4 linked regions of the Homo sapiens genome follow. The protein of the gene in region 1 purifies or fractionates together with the protein of each later gene. This does not show direct contact. Each region holds a gene or a part of one and is shown in the gene's direction. Other genes may lie near its edges. The genes, in order: CD83, BMPR2, MYADM and USP8.

Region 1 (7,605 bases):
TGACCTCATGTGACCCACCCGCCTCGGCCTCCCAAAGTGCTGGGATTACAGGCATAAGCCACCATGCCCGGGCTAAAATATTTTTATTAATGGTCAATAAAAAGATGCAAGAAAGGAAGAGGCAGAGAAAAATCTGGTTAAGCATAAAGCGTAAAACAAAATGACCAAAATAAATCCTAATGTAGCAGAATTCACAAAGTAATAAAATTAAACCCTCAGTTAGCAAGATAGATTGTCAGTCATACTGGATAGAAGAAAATCTAACAATATACTTTAAAAAGGACACAATAGAATGTAAGGAAAAAGAAATGTTGAATGTAAAAGTATTGAAAACGCCAGCAAGAAATTAACCCAGAGAAAAGAAGAGGCAGAGGATGGTAATATTAAGAGTAAACAGGCTGGGCATGATGGTTCACGCCTGTAATCCCAGCACTTTGGGAGGCTGAGGTGGGCGGATCATGAGGTTAGGAGTTCGAGATCAGCCTACCAACATGGTGAAATCCCATCTCTACTAAAAATACAAGAATTAGCCAGGCATGGTGACGGGTGCCTGTAATTCCAGCTACTTGGGAGGCTGAGGCAGAGAATTGCTTAACCTGGGAGGTGGAGGTTGCAGTGAGCCGAGATCCCGCCACTGCACTCCAGCCTGGGCGACAGAGCGAGACTCCGTCTCAAAAAAAAAAAAAAAAAAAAAAAAGTCAAATAAATGAAGAGAAAAAGGAACAATTCATTGGAAAAACATAACTTCCAGACACTAAAACATAGCATCAAATTATACCAAGCCAAAAAAATGATAAAATTTCAGAGATAAACAGACAATTCTGTAGTCATGGGAGAGAATTTAACACATCTCTTTCAATAATTGATAGTTCATGATTACAGAAGGGATATAGAAGATCTGAGCAACACCATGAGCAAAATCAAAAAGATCTTTCTTTCCGAGTACATGCCACTCTTACCAAAAGATCACATATGAGGCTACAAAGCAATCCTTGATATTGCAACAAAGAATCATACAGACTGTTCTTGAGCAACCTCAACTGTTAGACACCAGTAGCAAAATGAAAAGCAAGCCATATATTGGGAAATTTTTTTAAAAAAACCCTCTAAATAATTCATAATTCAACAAGTGACTTAATGGAGAGTCTAAGAACACATTGTTAACATTAATAAGAAAGGAAATTTCTACTCACTGGCTATGGACACCTAGAAAAATAGAGTTTAAAAAATATATATGTGAAAGTAGCAACACAATGTGAAGGTATCCAGGAAGAAATCTATCAAAAGATGTGAAAAACCTATATATATATAATTTTAAAAATTCTTGAAGACCTAAATAAATGGAAAGATACACAATATGGGATGAATTTGTAGAACTGACTTCTAAAGATGTTGATTTTAGGAGATTTATAAATTGAATATATTCCTACTAAAATTCAAATCAAGTTTTTTGAGGTTCACAAATTGATATAATATGTATAAGGTAGAACAAAGAACCAAGAATGCCAGAACATTTTTTTTTTTTTTGGATACACAGTCTTGCTCTGTCACCCAGTCTGGAGTGCAGTGGCACAATCTCGGCTCACTGCAGCGTGGACCTCCTGGGCTTAAGCGATCCTCCTGCCTCAGCCTCCTGAGTAGCTGGGACCACAGGTGCAAGCCACCATGCCCGGCTATTTTCTGTATTTGTTATTTTTTTGCATTTTTAGTAAAGACCAGGTTCACCATGTTGCCCAGGCCAGTCTTGAACTCCTAATCTCAAGTGATCCGTCCACCTGGGCCTTCCAAAGTGCTGGGATTACAGGCGTGAGCCACTGCACCCAGCCACCAGAACGATTTTGAAGACGAAGTTCAACATGTGAGGACTCACTTCCACCACAGCAAGACTTAATTAAATTATAGTAATAAGAAAGTGTGATATTAGCACAAAGAGAGGCAGAATAGAGTCTAGAAACAGGCCCACTCATATGTAGAAATTTGTATAAAGCACAGATGTCATTTTAAATCAGTAGGGAAAGAAGGACTTTTAGCAAGCAGCATTGGAAAAAATGGTTATCCATATGGAAAAAATAAGTTAGATCACGACATCAAACCATATTTAAATGGATTAAAGACCAACATATGAAAAAGCATGACTTTAAAAGTTTTGGAAGGAAATGAAGGAGAATGTTTTTATGATCTCAGGTCAGGAAAAGATTTCTTAAACACAATACCAGAAGCACAAATCATAAACCAAAAGATCAGTAAATTTGACCACATGAAAATATTTTTTAAAAACTCTTTGGTAAATTAAAGATATCATAAACAAAATGGAAAATACAAATCTTAAACTTGGAGAAGAGATTTGGCATGGATATAACCAAGAAAGGATTTGGCCCAGATTTTATAAACAGCGCTCATGGAAAAGGCCAAAGGATATGAATGACAATGCTCAGAAATATCCAATGTTCTTGAAGCATATGTTATCAATGTAACATAAATTAAGCAAAAAGGATCTAATATTTCACACTCATTAGATAGGCAGAAATTTAAAAAGATCTGGCTGGGCACGTGGCTCACACCTGTAATCCCAGTACCTTGGGAGGCCAAGGTAGGAGGATCTCTTGAGCCCAGGAATTTGAGACCAGCCTGAGCAACATAGTGAGACCCTATCTTTAAAGAAAAAAATCTGATCATGCTAAGACCTGCTGAGGGGAGTGTAAATGGGCATGTGCATTTTGGATAATAAGACGGCAATATTTAACAATGCAGTGTAATTACTGAGCTAGAGTGTTGGAAGACTTTCAGCTCCCCTGCAACATTGTTTATAATCAGGAAAAACTGAAAAGAAGCATAAATGGCTAGGTATGAGATCTGGCAGAGGACACATAGTGGGTCTCAAAAGACCATCCTGGCTAACACGGTGAAACCCCGTCTAAAAATACACACACAAAAAAATTAGTCGGGCGTGGTGGCGGGCTCCTGTAGTCCCAGCTACTCGGGAGGCTGAGGCAGGAGAATGGCGTGAACCCGGGAGGCGGAGCTTGCAGTAAGCTCAGATCACGGCCACTGCACTCCAGCCTGGGAGACAGATCGAGACTCCGTCTCAAAAAAAAAAAAAAAAAAAAAAAAAGAGGGTCTCGAAAATGTTAGTACTGTTTTATTTCTCAAGAATAAATTGTATACAGATGTGTTCAATTCCATATTTTCTATACTTATTTTGTATGCTTAACATTTTCACAATTAAAAAATTAATTTGGTGAGGCTGCTGGAGAAAAGGTACTCACACAAGCTGGCGGGACTGTCAATTGATATAACTACTTCCAAGAGCAGATTAGAACTGGTGGTATAGTGATGCCACTCTTTTTAACCTCTTGGATGGACAAAGATAGAAAGGTTGGATAACAGTTTGTGTTGGCAAACAGGCACTCTCTTTGCAGATGGGAATATAGATTGAAGACACCTCCTTGCAGGTAATTTTTTGGCAATATTTGACAAAATTGGAAACTCCCCTTCACCTAGCACAATTTCCTTGAGGTATTTATTCTAAGAAAATAAGCAATTTTAGAGCAAAGATTTATCTACACTGAAGTTTCCCATAGCAATCACAGTATTGTTTCTAATATTAGTAATACAAAAAGAAACAACCTGTATGTCTAACACTAATCGATTCTAATTTATGGTGCAACTGAACAATGGACCAAAATGATGCTGTTGGAAGTTTTTAATGATGTGGAACCGCTTGCAAATTATTAAGCTAAAAGAAAGTAGGTTACAAGATAGCAGGAAGAATAAACCATTAAAAATACCAATCTGTGCACTGACAAATGTTATAAATATTTTACGTTATGTTATGTTATAAACATTTTATAATATAAAAAAATGTTAACTGAAGTTACTTCCTGGATGAATTACAGGTGATTTCATTGTCTTCTAGAATTTTCTTTTCCAAAAATGTTGTGTATGCGTGTAATTATTATTTTAATAGGAGACACTCTCCTTTGGTGATATAATTTAAACAGGACGGTACTGACTGATAACCTCCCGGGGAAGGCAGGGAGCCAAGTACTACAGACTTGTATGTTTCCATGGAAATCTAACGCGCCTTTGATTATCACAGATTCTGGAGAAGAGTGAGGACTTGGGTTCACCAGTGCGTTCCCAAGGACAGGCTGGGCTTCTGAGGAAGTTGCCCACCCTCTCGGAATCTGGTTTGGCCTCCGTAAAATGGGCAGATCCCGCTCGGATGGCCCGGTTCCCGGCTTCCTTTTGCGGGTCAACGGCAGCGTCACGCGCGCGAGCGCGGTCTGCAAAGCCCCCAGCGCTGGGCGTCACGCGGGGATTGCTGTCGCCGCTGCCAGCCGCAGCAGCGACGCGAACTCGGGGCGCCCGGCCCGGGCGCGCGGGGGCGGGGACGCGCACGCGGCGAGGGCGGCGGGTGCGACGGGGGCGGGGACGGGGGCGGGGACGGGGGCGAAGGGGGCGGGGACGGGGGCGCCCCGGCCTAAGCGGGACTAGGAGGGCGCGCCACCCGCTTCCGCTGCCCGCCGGGGAATCCCCCGGGCTGGCGCGCAGGGAAGTTCCCGAACGCGCGGGCATAAAAGGGCAGCCGGCGCCCGCGCGCCACAGCTCTGCAGCTCGTGGCAGCGGCGCAGCGCTCCAGCCATGTCGCGCGGCCTCCAGCTTCTGCTCCTGAGCTGCGGTAGGGCTCGCGAGCGCCTGTCTCGCCTGTCGCCCCCCGCCCCTCCACGACACCCCCTCCCGTCGGTCGCTTGCTCACGACGCGCTCTCTCTTTCTTGTAGCCTACAGCCTGGCTCCCGCGACGCCGGAGGTGAAGGTGGCTTGCTCCGAAGATGTGGACTTGCCCTGCACCGCCCCCTGGGATCCGCAGGTTCCCTACACGGTCTCCTGGGTCAAGGTAGGTGCTGCGATACCCACGGGCTGGGGTTTGGTGGGCTCATTTGAAGACAGCAGGAACCATCTCCCCTAGGCTGGCGACCCTCTGTGGCTGCCAGGTGGGGGCGAGGGGCGTCTCCCGCAGCTGAACTTGGAGTACCCAGCCTCCCGTCGCGCCTCCCCCACCCCATCCGCATCCAGGTACAGGGCCGAATTAGGTTTTGCTCTCCGCAGACCTCAATCCCCTTCCTGTCACTGAAGGTGGCCTGAGATGAATGATCCACTTAAGATGTTTTGGAAGGGCAGAGACTCTCATTTGGATTAATTCTGGAGGCCACCTGTGGTTGTGGGCCAGCAGGTCAGGAAGAAAGCAACAGGGACCTAGATTTGGGCATTGGACAGGGGGAATGTCTCCAGACTTCTGATTTCTTGTGTTTTGTGACTGTGATGCCCATGATACATGGGAGGGGGAGGGGGCAATTTGAAAGGAAAGGCTAAGACACAGAAGTGACTTAGGCCATTTCATCCATGGTAGTTATCAGTGGTCATCTCCTTTGTGGGATACCCTTGGCTTCCTCCCCTAGCCCTCCTCCTCCTTCCTCTGGCAGCCTTGAGAGCATCAGGTGGATGCATGAGCCGGAGCCCGCATGTGTAAGAACAGGCCTTGCTGCTCCTACTGTAAGTGGACTGAGTGACAAGGAGGCTTTTTCAAGGTTTCCTCTTGACTGAAACATTCTCAGATTCTAAGATGGCAATGATGGTGTCATTCCAAAGCCAAGCAGCTACTGTTTGATATCACTGGTCCTTCTTTAAGTCAGGCCACTGCTACCACAGCACCTCCATTTTAACCCAAATGAATATGATATTACAACCTTACTCTGTAGCTCTCACTGATTTGCTGTCTTACCACGGGGGCAAATCTCTGCACTTGTAGCTTTCCCCAAAATGCAGGGCGTTCTTCTGCCCACCATAAAAGATACTATAAGAAACTGTACGTCTTTGGCCACTTAACAGTACAAGGCATCATTGCGGTGATCTCTTTGTGTGTGTGTCTCCTAACTGGATGGTCAGTTCCCTGGGGGGCAGTGGCTGTATCCATACTTCTGTGTATTCTTCACGGCACCTAATTTTTGCCCTATAAATTGCAAAGGTGCTCTGTGAATTCAGCCCAGCACTTCATGAGTTATGCATGACGGGGATGGTGCTGCTGCCTCAGAGCATTGTATTGTGTATAAAAGTAAGGTGTTAAATATTCCTACTTCATTGGTACCTTACTTACTGTGGGATCAGAGAACACAACAATTCCGAAATTGTTCTCATAGTCAAAACAATAGTATTTTTAAAAATATTGTAAAAACAATTTTTGAATGCTCACCACGTGCCAAGCTCCAAGGTAAATATTTACATACATTATCCATTTCCATCCATCGGAAGAATGGACTTAGGGATTAGTACTGTTACTATTCCTACTTTACAGGTGAGGAAACTGAGCCTTAGGGAGGGAAATAACTTGTCCACTTTTGCACAGCTAGCTAAATGGTGGAGTTGGGATTTGAACGAAGCAGTCTGATTCCAAATCCTGAGTTGTTAGAGGTCTATCTTGATCTCTGTTTTCTCCCTTAATAACTTAAGATAAAGAAAATCAAAGTGCCCCTGGGCTAACCAGGCAGGGACTTAGTTATCTCAAAGAACGGGGAAAAACATGAAACCACTATCCCTTCCAGAGAGTAACTATTTAATAAAGAAAACATTATTAATACCCCCAGGGGAGTAATTAAAAAGTACTCATGAAACAAGTAGATGAAATTTCAGGCTGTGAAGTTCAAACAGTTCTGGAGTGAAAGCTTCTTGCACAGGGTCATTTGGAATGGTCCACTAAACCATAGCAATTAACCTTGGACTTCTCCTTGGATGTCAGCTGGTGACGTAACTCGGTAACGCATGAGCTTGTTTATTGGACAGAATTCTTGCGAGATTTACCCCCAAGGTCTTTGAAAGCTCTGTCAAGAAAAAAAGGGACAGCAGTCTCTAGGCGTTCTTTTTTTCCTGTTGATCCATGGAATAGTGCCAATGAAAAGTCATACCGTAGTTATTTTTTGAGAAGTAAATGGTGATTGAGATTCGTGGGTAGGAGAGTTATGCTATACCAATAAACGAATCAGGTGCCTCGAAAGTGACATATATTGTTCCTTTAAGCATTTTTTTTAAAACAGCTCTCAGCATGTTCTGTAGATACTTATTATTTTCCAGCCCAATAATTATACTTTTTCATTGATTATGCTTATACAACAAAAATGGATAGAGTGTTCTGGAGACAAGGCCAGTGGTGAAATGCCAAAATACTTCATTTTACAGAATGTTAAGCATCTGGTCATTTTTCTATAAGTTTCTTGTAAAATGTTTCATCAAAGTGGAGGGGTAGCCACAAAGGGAGGAATTTCATTTTGGTAACCAGAACCAGCTTATCCCATCCTACTCACTTCATCATCACTACCCTGGCTTTGTAAAACCTGTTTTGCCAGCTTAGGAGGGGGCTTCATACTGGGCAAGGAAAGCAGAGTCCCTTGCAGTGGGTTTTCACCATCCACCAGATTGAAGCACATTCTGCAGGCTGTCTGCATATCATAAGTATGGTTATAATGACTCACAATTTAAAATTCTATTCACCACTCAATCCTCCGGCACCATGTAGCATCTTGCCTTTGTCCATTTGGCACTGATACTTGTAA
Region 2 (7,028 bases), on another chromosome or scaffold:
CAGCTTCTGATCAGTATTACCAAACATTGCATAACTACATCTAGTTAAACAATGAACAGCTCTTTCATAGGGCAACTCATTCTGTTTTAGACAGGTCTGTTTATAAGCCATGCTTTTCTGTATGCTCAACTAAAGGCTCTTATCCTTGAAGATACACTGATTGGAACTGGTTATTTGATGTGAAGACAGCTATCATATCCTCCCAAGTTTTCTTTTTTTTCCTCATCAGATGCTTTCAGTTCTTTCTACCCATCACAGTTCAGAGGTCTCAAACCTTCATAGTTGTACTTGCTCTCTTTTGGATATGCTCTAGTTTGTGGCCATCCATCCTAAAGGGTATTTGCTCTAGATGCGATCTGACCCACAGAATGGAACTTAACACATAAAATGTTTACATGTTTGTGATAGCCCTGTGATTTACCTATGTGTGTTCCCATTCCATTCTGCAAGTGAGTAAACTTGGGCTCAGATAGGAGAAGAAACTTTCCTAAGGTCATATGTTAAGTGGAAGAAGTGAGCTTCAAGTCCTATTCAGATTTAACTGCCTCCAAAGCCATGCTATTTTCATTAATAAAAATACCAATATTGATAAGTGTAACTACCATTTATTGCGTAGATAATATATGCTTTTTTAAAAAAAAACTTTAATTTTTTTTTTTTTTTTAAAGAAACAGAGTCTCACTTCATCACCCAAGCTGGAGTACAGTGATACAATCATGGCTCACTGCAGCCTCAAACTCCTGGGCCCAAGCAATCCTCCTGCCATAGCCCCCTGAGTAGCTGGGACTACAGGTGCATGCCACCATGCCTGACTAATTTTTTTTTTTAATTTGTTTTAATGTCTGGCATTTTGCTATGTTGTCCAGGCTGGCCTTGACCTTGTGGCCTCAAGTGATCCTCCTGCAGCAGCCTCCCAAAGTGTTGGGATTATAGGCATGAGCCACTGTGCCCAGCCAGATAATATATTCTTGACGTTGTGTTAAGTACTTAGACTACCATCTAAATCTTACAGCTAACTTGGGAAATACAGAGTACTATTTTTATAAATGAGGAAATTGAGGATTTAAAACCAAATGTGATTCTAAAACTGTTAGATTCTAAGACTCTTGATATTATACTATCCTGTCTAATCTGTTTCATGGTATTGTTGATGTTTTAATAATTAGGAGCACATCTACTTGGTGTTTTAGTGTTCCAAATCTATACAGAATAGTCTGTATGATTAAAAAATATAATTTGTAATTATCACATTTATTACTAATTTTTTCTTTCATTTCCTTTGATGCAAAAACATTACTAATTTGATTATACATGGGTACAGCCTTTCTAAAGGGCAGTCTGTCAGTATTTAACAAAATACTTTTTTAAAAAAAAATGACATTTCAAAATTTGTTTTCTTTTAGGTCCACCTCATTCATTTAACCGAGATGAGACAATAATCATTGCTTTGGCATCAGTCTCTGTATTAGCTGTTTTGATAGTTGCCTTATGCTTTGGATACAGAATGTTGACAGGTAAAAATTACCATTTTTTGTCCTATTGTTTATTAAACATGCAATTTAATCAATTTATTTGCTCCTTTTAAATTCCGTATGTTAAAAAAAATAGTCTCAAAGTTATGCAAAATACACCCAGCCTCAATAGTATCACGTATGGACAGTATTGTTTCATTTAAATTATCAGTCACTACCCCTTTCCATGCCACTGGATTATTTTGAAGCAAATCACAGATATCATATATCTGTAAATATTTAATTAGATATTATATATCTATAAATATTATCTCTACAATACAAGAGCTTTTTTTAAAATTTATTTTATTTTATTTTATTTTATTTTTGAGACGGAGTCTCGCTGTCGCCCAGGTTGGAGTGCAGTGGCGCGATCTCGGCTCACTGCAGGCTCCGCCCCCCAGGGTTCACGCCATTCTCCTGCCTCAGCCTCCTGAGTAGCTGGGACTACAGGTGCCCACCTCCTCGCCCGGCTAATTTTTTGTATTTTTAGTAGAGACGGGGTTTCACCGTGTTAGCCAGGATGGTCTCGATCTCCTGACCTCGTGATCCGCCCGCCTTGGCCTCCCAAAGTGCTGGGATTACAGGCGTGAGCCACTGCGTCCGGCCAATACAAGAGCTTTAAGAATACATATCCATAATACCATTTTCACATCTGAAAAAATAACAGTAATTCCTCAGTATCATCAAATGTCAAGTTGGTTCTAATATACTTTAGGTTTGATGGACTGTTTAGGAAATCAGCGTTCATTGATTCATTTGAATAACTTCTATACAATCTTCTTTAAAGTTTTTATAATATTGCTTAGGGTTTTAAACTTTTAAAGTAAGTCATCATGGGAGTGTCTCCCAGAATTTGGCTTTCATGCTATTCTGCATTCATCTTAATTTATAGGTATTACCTAGTTTAGTAAATAGCTTTACTCCTATTGACATTAGGCATAAATCTTGCTGCTAATCTTTCTGCAGCTCTTCTTTTTAAGTGTAATATTATAAAAAGTGTAAAAAGATATTCATTTTAAGAAAACCATATATTAGTAACCTGTTTCCTGTTCTTATAGGAGACCGTAAACAAGGTCTTCACAGTATGAACATGATGGAGGCAGCAGCATCCGAACCCTCTCTTGATCTAGATAATCTGAAACTGTTGGAGGTAAGTTTGCCGTTAGATTATGGACTGTTGTTTCTACTGTGATACTAGACCTGGAACAGTGACTTCATTCAATCATTAAGACATTCATTCATTTATTTAACCCTATTTACTAAATTACAATTTTTTGTCAAGGCCTATTCTAGGCACTAGGAACATAGGTGAACAATGTCTCCTGGGGCTTCTATTTGAATTGGGGAGTCTACAGACAGGTACAGGAATGTATAATATAATTGCAAGTAGTAGTAAGTGCTATGAAGAAAAGTACAGTGGATAAGAAAGTGATGAAAAGGGGGTTATTAAAGAAAATATGGGCCAGGCGCAGTGGCTCATGCCTGTAATCCCAGTACTTTGGGAGGTTGAAGCTGGTGGATCACCTGAGATCAGGAGTTCAAGACCAGCCTGACCAACATGAAGAAACCCTGTCTCTGCTAAAAATACAAAATTAGCCAGGCATGGTGGTTCATGCCTGTAATCCCAGCTACTCAGGAGGCTGAGGCAGGAGAATTGCTTGAACCCGGGAGGCAGAGGTTGCGGTGAGCCGAGATCGCACCATTGCACTCTAGCCTGGGCAACAAGAGCGAAACTCTGCCACAAAAAAAAAAAAAAGAAAGAAAGAAAAAGAAAATATGGCCAGGTGCAGTGGCTCACGCCTGTAATCCTATCACTTTGGGAGGCTGAGGCAGGGGGATCACTTGAGGTCAGGAGTTCAAGACCAGCCTGGCCAACATGGTGAAACCCTATCTCTACTAAAATACAAAAATTAACTGGGAGTGGTGGCGCCCGCCTGTAGTCCCAGCTGCTTGGGAGGCTGAGGCTAGCGAATTGCTTGAACCCAGAAGGTGGAGGTTGCAATGAGCCAAGATCACGCCACTGCACTCTAGGTGACAGAGCAGGAATCCGTCTCAAAAAATAAAAAAGAAAAAGAAAATATATTTAGAAAGAGGTTGACCTTTGATTAGAGATTTGTACAGGGTATGAGAATAAAGACATGAAAGTTTGAGAAGAGTGTGCCACAAGGGATCCATAATAGACAACAAATAAATACTCCTTGTCTGCATATATTACATATTTTTATAGATACATAAGGCTCTTTTATATAGAATTTAAGTTTCATTTGGTGATATCTCAGAAGCTACATTAAAAGTGTTACCATGATGAGTGTTTTTATATTTATTAAGAATGACTTGAAAACTATGGTCCCCAAACCAGAGACTATTAAATAATAGATGTGATAGATTTGACTATATAAAAAATTGTAAGAACTTTCTGTTTTGGGAGAGACATACCATAAACAAAGATAAAAGCCAAATTTGAAAAATAAATTTCAACATTTCAACATATAAGGGAAAACTTGATAAAGAACTGATATAAATCAAGATGAAAGAAACATTCTATAGCAAATGGACAAAAAGGCTGAGTGCTGTGACTCACACCTGTAATCCCAGCTCTTTTGGGAGGCCAAAGTGGGTGGATTGCTTGAGCCCAGGAGTTCAAGACAAGTCATGGGCAACATGGTGAAACCCCATTTATTTTGTAAAAAATACAAAAATTAGCTGGGTGTGGTGGCACATGCCTGTAGTCCCAGCTACTCGGGAGGCTGAGGTTGAAGGATCACTTGAGCCCAAGAGGTAGAGGTTGTGGTTAGCCTAGGTGACAGAGACCCTGTCTCAAAAAAAAAAGGACAAAAGGTATTAACTGCCAATTCACAAAAGAAGTAAGTGTGGCTAAGAAATGTACAGTAAGATGTCCAATTTACAAGGCTGAAAGAAATACTAGTTAACCCATGGAATTTTAGCCATGATTAAGTGATAGAAACACTTCCAAACATTGCTGAATTAACTATATATTGATATAACCTTTTTAAAGGACACTTTGTATAATTTTGATCTGGAAACAGTGTATGAAACACAACATATATCCTTAAATAAATGATGGTAAATCCCCAACCTGTTTTAATAAAAAGTAAAAGCAATCCCCAGAAGCCAAAAATAACGAGAATGGGTTACATTTTGCTGGTTCTTTGGGTGTTGAGTAATTTTTTTGTATTCTGGATATTGTGAATATTGTATTGTGGAACACTGAACTCAAAAATTAGCTGGGTATCATGGCACGCGCCTGTAATCCTAGCTACTCAGGAGGCTGAGGCAGGAGAATCACTTGAACCCGGGAAACGGAGGTTGCAGTGAGCTGAGACCGTGCCACTGCACTCCAGCCTGAGTGAAAGAGCAAGACTATCTCAATTAAAAAAAAAAAAAAAGATTTTTTTTTGTTGTTTTAGTAAGCAATAAACTTGGTTGAACACATACCACAAATCTGTTTGGGGCAGAAGCTCAAATCTCAGTTCAGTTATTTTATCTTTTTTTTTTTTTTTTTACTCTGTCATCCAGGCTGGAGTGCAAGGCATGGTCTGGGGTCACCGCAACCTCTGCCTCCCGGTTTCAAGTGATTCTCCAGCCTCAGCCTCTATGTAGGGATCTTTATGCAAGTATTTAAGTCTCCACAAAAGTGACTACAGGCGCATGCCACCACGCCCAGCTAATTTTTGTATTTCTAGTAGAGATGGGGTTTTACTGTGTTGGCCAGGCTGGTCTCAAACTCCTGACCTCGTGATCCACCCGCCTCAGCCTCCCAAAGTGCTGGGATTACAGGCGTGAGCCACCACGCCCGGCCTCAGTTATTTTATCTTTAGCTGGAAACTCTCTTGTATATTCACTGGGCTTTCCTCTCTCTGAATTTCTCCTTTCTAGGGTTCTCCCCTCATTTTCTAGCAACTGTGGCTGTCCAAAATATGTCCTGAGTTTCCCAAGGCCAGAACAATTTTCTGTTCTTCTTTTTTCTTTTTTTTTTTTTTGAGACGGAGTCTCACTCGGTCACCCAGTCTGGAGTGCAGTGGCGCGACCTCGGCTCACTGCAAGCTCTGCCTCCCAGGTTCACGCCATTCTCCTGCCTCAGCCTCCTGAGTAAGTGGGACTACAGGCGCCCACCACCACGCCTGACTTTTTTTTTTTTTTTTTTTTTGTATTTTTTTAGTAGAGATGGGGTTTTACCGTGTTAGCCAGGATGGTCTCGATCTCCTGACCTCATGATCCACCCACCTCAGCCTCCCAAAGGGCTGGGATTACAGGCGTGAGCCACCGCGCCTGGCCTCTTTTTTTTTTTTTTTTTTTTTTTTTTAATTGAGACAGTCTTGCTCTTTCGCCCAGGCTGGAGTGCAGTGGCGCGGTCTCAGCTCACTGCAACCTCCGTTTCCTGGGTTCAAGTGATTCTCCTGCCTCAGCCTCCTGAGTAGCTAGGATTACAGGCGTGTGCCATGATACCCGGCTAATTTTTGTATTTTTAGTAGAGACAGGGTTTCACCACTTTGGCCAGGCTGGTCTCGAACTCCTGACCTCAAGTGATCTGCCCACCTCAGCCTCCCAAAGTGCTGAGATTACAGGCATGAGCCACCACACCCAGCCTAGAATGGTTTTCTTTAGCAATTTTAGTTCCACTGCACAGTGCTGATTTCAGCCTGCCCTCAGGATAAAAGTCATAAAAATGGGTAGCTTGCCCCATACCACTTTTTTCTCAAAGCTTTAATGCCTCTCAAGATCTATCTGCCTTTAGATCTTTCTTTTTTTTAAATTTTGTCCAGCATTTATAAATGTTCTCTATGGGCAGGCTGGGTCTGGTAGGAGCTTCATCAGCCATACTAGAACAGAATTTATTAATTTCTTGATAATGGAATAAACTGTAAGCAACAGAGAGCTGTAGCATTCTGTTTAAATTTGTACTTTATTATTTAGTAAATTTGATTGTTCAATTGTGATATTAATACCTTGCTTTCTTTAAAACACTTGCAGCTGATTGGCCGAGGTCGATATGGAGCAGTATATAAAGGCTCCTTGGATGAGCGTCCAGTTGCTGTAAAAGTGTTTTCCTTTGCAAACCGTCAGAATTTTATCAACGAAAAGAACATTTACAGAGTGCCTTTGATGGAACATGACAACATTGCCCGCTTTATAGTTGGAGATGAGAGAGTCACTGCAGATGGACGCATGGAATATTTGCTTGTGATGGAGTACTATCCCAATGTAAGTTCTTCATAGAAAATAAACTGAGGCCAGGTGTGGTGGCTTATGCCTGTAATCCCAGCACTTTTGGAGGCTAAGGCAGGTGGATCACTTGAGGCCAAGAGTTCAGGACCAGCCTCGCCAACATGGCAAAACTCCCGTCTCTACTAAAAATACAAAAATTAGCCGGGTATGATGGCACACATCTGTAATTCCAGCTACTTGGGAGGCTGAGGCATGAGAATTGCTTGAACCCGGTAGGCGGAGGTTGCAGGGAGCCGAGATTGTACAGCCGTACTCCAGCCTGGGCGA
Region 3 (6,081 bases), on another chromosome or scaffold:
GGGCATCTGGGATCCTTCAGGCTAAGGGTCCAGGGCCAGAGGTCTGACCCCTTATAACAGGACGGTGATGGCCAGGCGCAGTGGCTCATGCCTGTAATCCCAGCACTTTGGGAGGCCAAGGCGGGCGGATCACTTGAGGTCAGGAGTTTGAGACCAGCCTGGCCAACATGGCGAAACCCCATCTCTACTGAAAATACAAAAATTAGCCGAGCATGGTGGCACACACCTGTAATCCCAGCTACTCAGGAGGCTGAGGCAGGAGAATCGCTTGAATCCGGGAGGCGGAGGTTGCCGTGAGTCAAGATCGCACCATTGCACTGCAGCCTGGGTGACAGAGCGACTCCATGTAAAAAAAACAACAACCAAAAAACAGGATTGTGAGGCCTAGAGAGAGTTCAGTGGAAGGGCCTGGGGTTCCTACTGGACAGTTGGAAATCTGGGGAGCTGAGTTTCCCAGAAGCTGGGGGACCAGCTGGCTGGGTTTTGGGGAGAGAAGGTGGAGGTAGATGGACTCAGTATGCAGGAGTGTGGAGGGGGAGGCTCAAACTAGCTTTTTTGGGTTGCAGTACTCCAGTCCTAAATCTCAGGTGGGAGTTAGACTGAGAGTGAAGGTTGCTAATCTCCAAGGTGGGGGGTAGGGAGAGGAGGAGGCCGCTAAGAGTTTAGGCTCCTTGTCAGAAGGGAGGGGAGATCTCTTGGTTTTCCACGGCTGGGATCTCTATGAGAAGATATCCTTTATCGGGAGGTCGGAGCTCTTATTAGATGTGGGTCCCTGAGAGTGGAAGCCTGGGGAGGTTGGGCCGTTTAGAGGCTGCAAATGTCTAGGTCACTGTTCGATGGAAGAAGGAAGTTTGCTCACAGGGTCTGGGGTGCAGAGCTCTGAATACTGAAAGAAAAGGAAGTTGAGAGATGGGGTTTTCAGAGCCTGTGGAAGACAAGCGTTTTGTTCTGACACTTGGGTTGTGGCAGGAGGCAGAAGGAGGATGCTTTATTTTTTATTTATTTTATTTATTTTTATTATTTTATTTTATTTTTTGAGATGGAGTTTCACTCATGTCACCCGGGCTGGAGTGCAGTGGCGCAATCTCGGCTCACTGCAACCTCCACCTCTAGGGTTCAAGCGATTCTCCTGCCTCAGCCTCCCAAGTAGCTGCGATTACAAGCGCCCACCACCACACCCAGCTGATTTTTGTATTTTTAGTAGAGACGGGGTTTCACCATGTTGGTCAGGCTGGTCTTGAACTTCTGACCTCAAGTGATCTGCCAGCCTCGGCTTCCGAAAGTGCTGGGATTACAGGCATGAGCCACTGCGCCCAGATTATTTTATTTTTTTTGAGGCGGAGTGTGGCTCTGTGGCTCAGGCTGGAGTGCAGGGGTTCTATCTTGGCTCACTGCAACCTCTGCCTCCTGGGTTCAAGTGATTCTCCTGCCTCAGTCTCCCGAGTAGCTGGGATTGCAGGTGCATGCCACCACGCCCAGATAATTTTTGTATTATTAGTAGAGACCGAGTGTCGCCACGTTGGCCAGGCTGGTCTCCAACTCCTGACCTCAAGTGATCCACCCACCTTGGCCTCCGAAGTGCTGGGATTACAAGTGTGAGCCACCACACCCGGCCTATTTGTAATTAAAAAAAATTTTTTTTTTTTGAGTCAGGGTCTCACTCTGTCTCCCAGGCTGGAGTGCACTGGTGCATCACAGCTCACTGCAGCCCTGACCCCACAGGCTCAAGCAATCCTCCCACCTCAGCATCCCGAGTAGCTGGGACCACACGCACACACCACCACACCCAGCTAATTAAAAAATTTTTTTTTGGTAAATGAGGTCTCCCTAAGGTTGCCCAGGCTGGTCTCCAACTCCTGGGCTCAAGCAATCCTCCTGCCTCAGCCTCTTGGAGTGCTGGGATTACAGGCATCAGCCACACCTGTGCCTGGCCAGAGGGGTGGTGCTATAGAGTACAGAGTGCTAAATGGCTGAGCTACTGAGTCCCTTGGGGAGGGAGGGAAAGAGGGAAGCACGGTATCTGGAGTGGGAAGCAAACAGTGTAGTTGTACAGTAGTTAGGTCTTGAAAGAGAGAAGAATCTCTTGAGAAGGAGGAAAATAGGGGCCTAGACTCCTGGATTCTGATACGAGTAGGGGAGGAGTGAGCCTTGAACCGGAGGGGACAGGCTCATCCCTGTATGCCCAGGACTGTCCCCATTTGAAAACCCAAGGCTGGGCCCGGTGGCTCACGCCTATAATCCCAGCACTTTGGGAGGCCAAGGCCAGCGGATCATGAGGTCAGGAGATCGAGACCATCCTGGCTAACACAGTGAAACCCCGTCTCTACTAAAAATACAAAAAAATTAGCCGGGCGTGGTGGCACATGCCTGTAATCTCAGCTACTCGGGAGGCTGAGGCAGGAGAATCACTTGAACCTGAGTAGCAGAGGTTGTAGTGAGCTGAGATTGTGCCAATGCACTCCAGCCTGGGCCACAGAGCAAGACTCTGTCTCAAAAAAAAAAAAAGAAAAGAAAACCGAAAGCCCCACATCTTGGGAACTCCCTAATTAGAGCTCATATTAATTTGTCCCTGGGGTAGGCAATGGCTAAGGGACCTGGATTCTTATGTTTGTGACTGTATAAGGACACTGTCTTTCCCCTTTTTGCAGCCATGCCAGTGACGGTAACCCGCACCACCATCACAACCACCACGACGTCATCTTCGGGCCTGGGGTCCCCCATGATCGTGGGGTCCCCTCGGGCCCTGACACAGCCCCTGGGTCTCCTTCGCCTGCTGCAGCTGGTGTCTACCTGCGTGGCCTTCTCGCTGGTGGCTAGCGTGGGCGCCTGGACGGGGTCCATGGGCAACTGGTCCATGTTCACCTGGTGCTTCTGCTTCTCCGTGACCCTGATCATCCTCATCGTGGAGCTGTGCGGGCTCCAGGCCCGCTTCCCCCTGTCTTGGCGCAACTTCCCCATCACCTTCGCCTGCTATGCGGCCCTCTTCTGCCTCTCGGCCTCCATCATCTACCCCACCACCTATGTCCAGTTCCTGTCCCACGGCCGTTCGCGGGACCACGCCATCGCCGCCACCTTCTTCTCCTGCATCGCGTGTGTGGCTTACGCCACCGAAGTGGCCTGGACCCGGGCCCGGCCCGGCGAGATCACTGGCTATATGGCCACCGTACCCGGGCTGCTGAAGGTGCTGGAGACCTTCGTTGCCTGCATCATCTTCGCGTTCATCAGCGACCCCAACCTGTACCAGCACCAGCCGGCCCTGGAGTGGTGCGTGGCGGTGTACGCCATCTGCTTCATCCTAGCGGCCATCGCCATCCTGCTGAACCTGGGGGAGTGCACCAACGTGCTACCCATCCCCTTCCCCAGCTTCCTGTCGGGGCTGGCCTTGCTGTCTGTCCTCCTCTATGCCACCGCCCTTGTTCTCTGGCCCCTCTACCAGTTCGATGAGAAGTATGGCGGCCAGCCTCGGCGCTCGAGAGATGTAAGCTGCAGCCGCAGCCATGCCTACTACGTGTGTGCCTGGGACCGCCGACTGGCTGTGGCCATCCTGACGGCCATCAACCTACTGGCGTATGTGGCTGACCTGGTGCACTCTGCCCACCTGGTTTTTGTCAAGGTCTAAGACTCTCCCAAGAGGCTCCCGTTCCCTCTCCAACCTCTTTGTTCTTCTTGCCCGAGTTTTCTTTATGGAGTACTTCTTTCCTCCGCCTTTCCTCTGTTTTCCTCTTCCTGTCTCCCCTCCCTCCCACCTTTTTCTTTCCTTCCCAATTCCTTGCACTCTAACCAGTTCTTGGATGCATCTTCTTCCTTCCCTTTCCTCTTGCTGTTTCCTTCCTGTGTTGTTTTGTTGCCCACATCCTGTTTTCACCCCTGAGCTGTTTCTCTTTTTCTTTTCTTTTTTTTTTTTTTTTTTTTTTAAGACGGATTCTCACTCTGTGGCCCAGGCTGGAGTGCAGTGGTGCGATCTCGACTCACTGCAACCCCCGCCTCCTGGGTTCAAGCGATTCTCCTGCCCCAGCCTCCCAAGTAGCTGGGAGGACAGGTGTGAGCTGCCGCACCCAGCCTGTTTCTCTTTTTCCACTCTTCTTTTTTCTCATCTCTTTTCTGGGTTGCCTGTCGGCTTTCTTATCTGCCTGTTTTGCAAGCACCTTCTCCTGTGTCCTTGGGAGCCCTGAGACTTCTTTCTCTCCTTGCCTCCACCCACCTCCAAAGGTGCTGAGCTCACATCCACACCCCTTGCAGCCGTCCATGCCACAGCCCCCCAAGGGGCCCCATTGCCAAAGCATGCCTGCCCACCCTCGCTGTGCCTTAGTCAGTGTGTACGTGTGTGTGTGTGTGTGTGTGTGTGTGTGTGTTTGGGGGGTGGGGGGTGGGTAGCTGGGGATTGGGCCCTCTTTCTCCCAGTGGAGGAAGGTGTGCAGTGTACTTCCCCTTTAAATTAAAAAACATATATATATATATATTTGGAGGTCAGTAATTTCCAATGGGCGGGAGGCTTTAAGCACCGACCCTGGGTCCCTAGGCCCCGCCTGGCACTCAGCCTTGCCAGAGATTGGCTCCAGAATTTTTGCCAGGCTTACAGAACACCCACTGCCTAGAGGCCATCTTAAAGGAAGCAGGGGCTGGATGCCTTTCATCCCAACTATTCTCTGTGGTATCAAAAAGAAAAAAAAAAAAAAAGAAGGAGTCGGGGCCGGGCGTGGTGGCTCACGCCTGTAATCCCAGCACTTTGGGAGACCAAGTCAGGCAATCATCTGAAGTCAGGAGTTCAAGACCAGCCTGGCCAACATGGTGAAAGCATGTCTCTATTAAAAATACAAAAATTAGCCGGGCGTGGTGGCGGGCGCCTGTAATCCCAGGTATTTGGGGGGACTGAGACAGGAGAATCCCTTCAACCCGGGAGGTGGAGGTTGCAGTAAGTCAAGATGGCACCACTGTGCTCCAGCCTGGGGGACAGAGCGAGACTCCATCTCAAAAAAAAAAAGGAATCGGACGAAGAACCACAGGATGTTGAAGACAACTGTCTGAAGTATTTGTGAGGGACAGCGATGTGGCCCTCTGTGTTAAGAATAACGTGTCCTGCTTTGGCAGAGAGAAGAAAATAGCCACTGCCCGCTTTCAAGGCAAGATCGACCTTTTCTGTTTTGTTTTGTTTTTCTTTCTTTTTCCTGGCCATGAGGACAAAAATTACTGAGTGGCCCTTAAAGAGGGAAGTTTGTTTTCAGCTGTTCTCTTTTGCCCGTAGGTGGGAGGGTGGGGATTGCTGCGTCCTAGCTAGAGGAATGGCTTTGCTTGAATGTGTAGTGCACACGCACGGGTGTTTCTGTGTGCTAGTTGCTTCTTGCTGCTGCTTCCTGCTTGTCTGGGACTCACATACATAACGTGATATATATATATATATATATAAATGTATAAATATATATTTTATTTTTTTTTAAATCCCTGGAGCTTCTGGTTCCTATCAGTTCCTGTTGTTAATCGTAGAACCGTTGTCCCTTCCCCCATTCCCGTATCCATCATGTTCTTTTTCTTTTAAATATCAATATAAAGGTAAAAGAAGGACTTGTGCTTTCTTAATGAGGAGGGCGGCCGAGCACGGCGGGCGGATCACTTGAGGTCAGGAGTTTGAGACCAGCCTGGCCAACATGGTGAAACCCCGTCTCTACAAAAAAATAAAAAAGAAAAGCGGGGGAGGACTCTCGGAGAGGGGCAAGGGCCAGATTCTTGGGTCTAGTGGGAGAATAGGGTTGGTGCCAAGACAACCTTGGCCTCATCAGAAGATACTAGCTGGATCTAGGTCTTCTAAATGACTTCCTCAAACCAGGAGGGCTGGGTGGGATAGAAATGAACTAGACTTCTCCCTCCTTGGAGTCTGTCCCCTGAGCACCTCACAAATACAACGTCCTAATTTGAGTGAAGGAGCTTTCCTCCCCAGTCACCTCGTCCTCCCAGGTCCCCCCATTTCAGTAATAGCCTCTCAGAGCTGAGAACCCAAGCACATGGTGGTACCTTCCCCCCGTCTACTCAAGTCAGTCCCTCATCAAACACTGTCTATTCTTCCCCCTAAATACCATTTCTACCGCC
Region 4 (7,028 bases), on another chromosome or scaffold:
GAAGAGTGGTGGTGGTATTGGGAGTGATTTACGGAATTTGTTCAAAGTCATATGATTAATAAATGGAAAGTAAGGCCTGCAACAGTTCCATAATATTAAATTTATTAGTACTGAATGATGAAATATTATATTAAACTTATTTGGAATTCTACATTTATAGCCGTACTAATTTTTTTTTTTTTTTTTTTTTTGAGACGGAGTCTTGCTCTGTCTTCTAGGCTGGAGTGCAGTGGTGAGTTCTCGGCTCACTGAAATGTCCGCCTCCTGGGTTTAAGCAATTCTGCTTCAGCCTCCCGAGTAGCTGGGACTATAGGCACCTGCCACCATGCCCGGCTAATTTTTGTATTTTAGTAGAGATGGGGTTTTGCCATGTTGGCCAGGCTGGTCTTGAACTCCTGACCTCAGGTGATCTGCCCGCCTCAGCCTCCCAAAGTGCTGGGATTATAGCCGTGAGCCACCATACCTGGCCCTTTTTTTTTTTAAACTGAGACAAGGTCTTGCTCTGTCACCCAGGCTGGAGTGCAGTGGCATGACCTTGGCTCACTGTAACCTCTGCTTCCTGGGCTCAAGTGATCCTCCTGCCTCAGCCTCCCAAGTAGCTAGGACTGCAGGCACACGCCAGCACACCTGACTAATACCATACTAATTCAAGTAAAACAGTTCTCATGTATAGTGAATAAGGGTTAACTAAGCCTTGTCTCTTTTGACTAACACATTACAATTTAGTTTTTTGTTTGTTTGTTTTTGAGAGGGAGTCTTGCTCTGTCACCTAGGCTGGATGCAGTGGCATGATCTCGGCTCACTGCACCCTCCGTCTGATGGGTTCAAGCAATTCTCCTGCCTCAGCCTCCCAAGTAGCTGGGATCACAGGCATATGCCGCCACGCCCAGCTAATTTTTTGTGTTTTAGTAGAGATGGGGTTTCACTGTGTTGCCCAGGCTGGTCACGAACTCCTGAGCTCAGGCAATCCACCTGCCTCGGCCTCCCAAAGTGCTGGGATTACAGGCGTTAGCTACCACGCCGGGCCTACAATTTAGTTTTTAATAATGCAGCAGTCTTCCTCTTATCTGCAGGGGATATGTTTCAAGACCTCCAATGAATGCCTGAAACCACAGATAGTACTGAACCCTATATATACTATGTTTTCCCTATATATACATTTTTATGATAAAGTTTAACTTATAAATTAGTAACAAGAGATTAACAACAATAACTAATAATAAAATAGAATAATTACAACAATATAGTGTAATAAAAGTTATGCCCTGTGGCCATAACTTGTGCAACTTGAGGTGTGACAGCAAAACTAGCACAAATTTCTTTTTCCTTCATAATTTTGCAGATAAAAGATCTTACCATAGATCTTAGCAACCTCAGCATGAGGTTTTTGGTTTTTTTTCTTATTAGGTTGAGAACTTTCACCTTTTTGCTTAAAGGAAGCAGTTTACAACTTCTTTTTGACATACGTGAATCTCTGCTTTTACACTTTGAAGCCATGATTAAGTAAAATGAGGGTTACTTGAACACAAGCACTGTAATACTGCTATAGTCAGTCTGGTAACTGAGACGGCCACTTAGTGATTAACAGGCAGGTAGCATCTACAGTGTGGATACACTGGACAAAGGGATGATTCATGTCACAGACTGGGCGAAGTGAGGTGGTGCACAATTTAAAACTTATGAATTGTTTATTTCTGGAATTTTTTATTTAATATTCTTGGACTGTGGTTGACTGCAAGTAGCTGAAACCATGGAAAGCGAAACCATGGATAAGGGGGGACTACTACACTAAATTCTGAAACATACCAATAATGGTGTAAACCCACATGTCTTTTTAATAGAGTAAAATGAAATAATTACACATTATAATACCAATTTCAGAACAAGAGTTATGGGCATAAGCATCCTGGAGGTGTTTTTTTTTTTTTTTTTGGAGGTGTTATTTTAATTTCTCAATTACAGAGTTTTAAAAATGAAAATGATTTTTTAAAATTTTGGTAGGTTGAATGATTTAAGATGCTGATTTCAGCTGGAAACAAATTGTTGCCTTCATATTATTTTGTTGCTCCTAGCAGCATGTTTATATTCATTCTTATATTGATGGTTCCCAGTCTTGACTGGTGTTAGAATTCATTTGGGAAGCTTTTTAAAAATACCTATGTGGGCAAGGCGAGGTTGGCTCATGCCTGTAATCCCAGCACTTTGGGAGACCTAGGCAGGAGGATCACTTGAGCCCAAGAGTTTGAGACTATCCTGGACAACATAGTGAGACTCTGTATTTTTTTAAATATATAAATAAGAAAATAAATACCTGTGTGTATGTCTCATCCATAGAGATTCTGATTTAATTGTTTAGGAGTGGGATCTGAGCATCAATATTTTTTTAAAGTTCTCTAGGTAACTGATTCTAACATACAGCTGGGATTGAGAACTATGTTTTTGGTGCATGTTAAGTACGATCTGGCTCCCTACTTAATGATTTTGCATCTGTTAAAAAATTAATGAGGTAGAAGACAAAAGAAATGGATTAAAGTTATAAATGTAGATAGACATCTATTCTGGAAAACAGTTACCCTTTTGTTAGTTTCTGGGAATGGTCCTTAATAAAACAAACAGACATTGGCCTGGTTTGCTAAGTGCCTATATCACAGCATTAAGCCACACTTTACTTTGTTACCGTTATGTACTTAACTTTCATTTTAAGAGGCAGAAACTTTATTAAGAGTTGTATTTTTTTAGTATCCCCTGTATCACAACACTGCACCTTGTGTATAGTAGGTATCTATTGTTTACCTAATTGAAGCCAGTTTAGACAGTCACTCTTTAGAACTAGGGCTAGTTCAGCTCCTTGGGAGGCTGAGGCAAGAGAATCGCTTGAACCGGGGAGGTGGAGGTTTTGGTGAGCCGAGATTGCGCCACTGCTCTCCAGCCTGGACAGCAGAGTGAGACGTCATCTCAAAAAAATAAAGAACTAGGGCTAGTTTATTCTTTTCTTTTCTTTTTTTCTCATGGCATTCTAAGACTCCCCCAATTAGACAGGGTCTCCCTCTATTGCTCAGGCTGGAGTGCAATGGTGTAATCATGGTTCATTGCAAGCTCAACCTCCCAGGCTCAAGGAAGGCCTCAGCCTTCCGAGAAGCTGGGACCACAGGCGCATGCCACCATGCCCTGCTAATTTTTTATTTTTTTATTTTTTTTTTGTAGTGATAAGGTCTCACTGTGTTGCCCAGCAGTTCACCAAATCCTAGATAACATAATTTTGGTGTCAATACTTAATTATCTTCCAAAACAATAGGGATTATCAAAGTCAACATTGATGCCTTATTAGTTGATAAACAGATTTAATATCTGTCTGCTCTCACATATAACTGATTTCTAGTTAATATTTACATCTTAAGATGTTCCTTTGGCATACACTCAACATTTTCCACATCGAATTACCTACTTTGCTGTAAACCAGTGGTTCTTGTTGGGGGTAATTTTGCCTTCCAGGACACATTCGGCAATGACTGTAGACAGTTTTGGTTGTTACAACTGGAAGGGAAGGATGATAGTAAACTGGCGTCTAGTAGAGGTTAGGGATGCTGCTAAACATCCTGCAGTGCACATTGCACAGAGCAGCCTCTCACAACAAATGTTTATCTGGTCCAAAATGTGAGTGATGGCAAGGTTGAGAAACGCTGCTGTAAACTGATCAGTTTTAAACTGCAGTATTACTTTTTTTGTTAATAGCACTACTGCTCTTCATATTTTGCAGGGTACAGTGTGTGTGCCTCTGTGTGTGTGTGTGTGTGTGTGTGTAAGCAAGAGAAAATACTGTTTCGATCAACCAGTTACCAAAGCATGTTTCTACCATTTTGTGTTCTTTTCTGCAGTGACCTTGTAGTTACTCTTTTCCATAGTATCATTCCCTTGTTCTCATCTCCTTTCAATCTTACTTACATATCCCTAATTTGACCATCTTGAGATAATATTTTTCCCATCAGGAACTGGCTTTTATTGCCTGCTGAATCAAATATAAAGAATTCTGGATGGCTTCCAAAGTCTTCCATAATGTGACTCCATCTCCTACATAATATAATTTAGTTATTCTTGTTAGTCAACATTTTTTTTTCCTTTTAGTTAAATTCAGCTGACAGGGAGAAACATTTATTAAAGTGGTGACTATGTGAGGACTATTGAGATAGGTGCCAGGGATCCAAAGACATGTCAACATTTTCCCTCTATCCGATTGATTATTTCCCAATAACTTCTGTAATATTCCTTATTATTACTATTTTTTCCGAGATGGAGTTTCACTCTTGTTGCCCAGGCTGGAGTGCAGTGGTGCGATCTTGGCTCACTGCAACCTCTGCCCCCTGGGTTCAAGAGATTCTCCTGCCTCAGCCTCCTGAGTAGGTGGAATTACAGGCGTCCACCACCATGCCCAGCTAATTTGGTATTTTTAGTAGAGACGGGGTTTCTCCATATTGGTCAGGCTGGTCTTGAACTTCTGACCTCAGGTGATCTGCCTGCCTCAGCCTCCCAAAGTGCTGGGATTACAGGTGTCAGCCACCATGCCCAGCCAGATGTCCTCCTTTCTTACCCTGTTCTTAGCTAAATTCTGTCCTCAAGGCCAGGTTCTCTCTCTCATCACATCATCATGAGCACTGCGTGTGTATGAGGATTTTAAAGCCTTATAGTAATTGTCTGTTGATCCCATTACTGTATTTAAGGAATGATATAGATCACAAGCATTGTAGGATTCACATGAAGAAACAAATTCCAAGAACTGGGACCATAAAGGATGGAAGAGATGGAACTTAAGTTTGTTTCTTCTTGTAGCTGAGACCTCAGATGTGCACCACTACGCCCAGCTAATTTTTAAATTTTTTGTAAAATTTTTTGTCTTTACTTTGTTGCCCACTTTGTTGGCTACCTACCATTTCTCCCTATCTCTGCCCTTTAGGCAACAACAATACTCAACATAAATATCTGTTCTTGAACTCCTGGGCTCAAGCAGTCCTCCCACCTCAGTCTCCCAGAGTGTTGGGATTACAGCTGTGAGGCACCACGCCCAGTCAGTGCACTGCTTTTTGCATGGAGAAAGTCTTGCTGCTACTTTAAAAAGGTCAGTGTGCTTAATTGATCTACATTCTGTCACAAACTTCTTATTTTATCACAAACTGATAACAAACAGTTCCCCAATCAGCACTGGTCATTGGACCATACTTGGAGTTACATTGCTGTAGTGTGAGACTTTCATACTTTTTTTAAAATTGTCACCTGTATTAAGAAATACATTTTACATTTTCATCCAGTGTTATATCATATACACATGTACATAACTGAAACAATTTTACGAAGCAGTACCTAACCTTACTATGTGTGACATAGTCTGATGTTTGCTATTTTTTTAATGCTGATCATGACCTTCTAATGGATTTTAAAAACACTGCCCTCAAGCATTTAGCACAGTGCTAGAGACATAGTAGTTGCTCAGAAAATACCATACATTTTAGCAGTGATTAAATCTTGAGAGGGTTGAGCCTTCTTAATACTTGAGGATTACTTTAAAATGTTATTTCATTGGCCGGGCACGATGGCTCACGCCTGTAATCCCACCACTTTGGGAGGCCGAGGCGGGCGGATCACCTGAGGTCAGGAGTTCGAGACCAGCCTGGCCAACATGGAGAAACCCTGTCTCTACTAAAATACAAAAATTAGTGGGGCATGGTGGCGGGGCGCCTGTAATCTCAGTTACTTGGGAGGCTGAGGCTGCTTGAATCTGGGAAGTGGAGGTTGCAGTGAGCCAAGTTCATGCCACTGCACTCCAGCTTGGGCGACAGAGTGAGACTCCGTCTCCAAAAAAAAAAAAAGTTATTTAATCAATACTTAGTTGTTTGTGGCACCTTATACAGAACGAGTGTAGAGTGGATTATGAGATTTAAGACAGCGAGAAGATACTTATGTTGAGTATTGTTGCTGCCTAAGGGCAGAAATAGAGAGAGATGGTGGGTGACCAACAAAGACAACTTTTGCTTTCCTTTCAATATTGCCAAAGACCTTAGGAGTGGCTGGTGTGAATCCCTGCTTAAAATCAGGACCAGTTTGAATGACTGCAAACCTCATTTTTCACTTTTTACCTTTTAGTCTTCACTTTGTGGTTCCAGTCATCAAATCCCTACTCTTTGTCTTAGAAAGGAGCAGAAGGATGTCAGAGAAAGAACATTTTCTCTTTATTTATTTATTTTTTTTTGAGATGGAGTCTCTGTTGCCCAGGCTGCAGTGCAGTGGCGCGATCTCAGCTCACTGCAAGCTCCACCTCCCAGGTTCGTGCCATTCTCCTGCCTCAGCCTCCTGAGTAGCTGGGACTACAGGTGCCCGCCACCGTGCCCGGCTAATTTTTTGTCTTTTTAGTAGAGACGGGGTTTCACCGTGTTAGCCAGGATGGTCTTGATCTCCTGACCTCGTGATCCGCCCGCCTTGGCCTCCCAAAGTGTTGGGATTACAGGCGTGAGCCACTGTGCACGGCTGCATTTTCTCTTTGTTAACTCATTTTCAACACTTTTGGGTTTCACTTTTGGAGCACTGCTGTTTGACTAAGGCTGAAGTTCTTTGTCAGGTTTACACATCTTAAGAATTTTTATTTTTTGTTGTTAGAAGCATGTTAATTTTTCTTGCATATACTTAGTTATTTTTTTTTCACTTGCAATCCTTCTTGAAGCATAAGGTTTTTTGTTTTGTTTTGTTTTGTTTTGTTTTGTTTTAAAAGACAGAGTCTTGCTCTGTCGCCCAGACTCCGCTCACTGCAATCTTCACCTCCTGGGTTCAAGCGATTTTTCTGCCTCAGCCTCCTGAATAGCTGGGATTACAGGTGTGCGCCACCACGTCCGGCTAATTTTTGTATTTTTAGTAGAGATGAGGTTTCACCATGTTGGCCAGGCTGGTCTCAAACTCCCGACCTCAAGCAGTCCACCTGCCTCAGCCTCCCGAAGTGCTAGGATTACAGGCCTGAGCCACCACGCCCGGCTGCATTTTCTCTTTGT

The links.
Region 2: the proteins of CD83 (region 1) and BMPR2 purify together in Homo sapiens (affinity purification with mass spectrometry; 2 studies listed by BioGRID and IntAct, with this or other methods). This does not show direct contact.
Region 3: the proteins of CD83 (region 1) and MYADM purify together in Homo sapiens (affinity purification with mass spectrometry; 2 studies listed by BioGRID and IntAct, with this or other methods). This does not show direct contact.
Region 4: the proteins of CD83 (region 1) and USP8 purify together in Homo sapiens (affinity purification with mass spectrometry; 2 studies listed by BioGRID and IntAct, with this or other methods). This does not show direct contact.

The regions. Positions count from the first base shown.
Region 1 is NC_000006.12:14,113,168-14,120,772, forward strand, and holds the start of CD83 (CD83 antigen isoform a precursor), read left to right. Parts: upstream 1-4,604; 5' UTR 4,605-4,644; coding exon 4,645-4,681; intron 4,682-4,782; coding exon 4,783-4,898; intron 4,899-7,605. UniProt on the Homo sapiens protein: Transmembrane glycoprotein predominantly found on the surface of many immune cells including dendritic cells or lymphocytes that plays various roles in immune response regulation.
Region 2 is NC_000002.12:202,512,316-202,519,343, forward strand, and holds part of BMPR2 (bone morphogenetic protein receptor type-2 precursor), read left to right. Parts: intron 1-1,403; coding exon 1,404-1,514; intron 1,515-2,572; coding exon 2,573-2,664; intron 2,665-6,506; coding exon 6,507-6,737; intron 6,738-7,028. UniProt on the Homo sapiens protein: On ligand binding, forms a receptor complex consisting of two type II and two type I transmembrane serine/threonine kinases.
Region 3 is NC_000019.10:53,870,880-53,876,960, forward strand, and holds the end of MYADM (myeloid-associated differentiation marker), read left to right. Parts: intron 1-2,648; 5' UTR 2,649-2,650; coding exon 2,651-3,619; 3' UTR 3,620-5,556; downstream 5,557-6,081.
Region 4 is NC_000015.10:50,427,390-50,434,417, forward strand, and holds part of USP8 (ubiquitin carboxyl-terminal hydrolase 8), read left to right. Parts: intron 1-7,028. UniProt on the Homo sapiens protein: Hydrolase that can remove conjugated ubiquitin from proteins and therefore plays an important regulatory role at the level of protein turnover by preventing degradation. Converts both 'Lys-48' an 'Lys-63'-linked ubiquitin chains.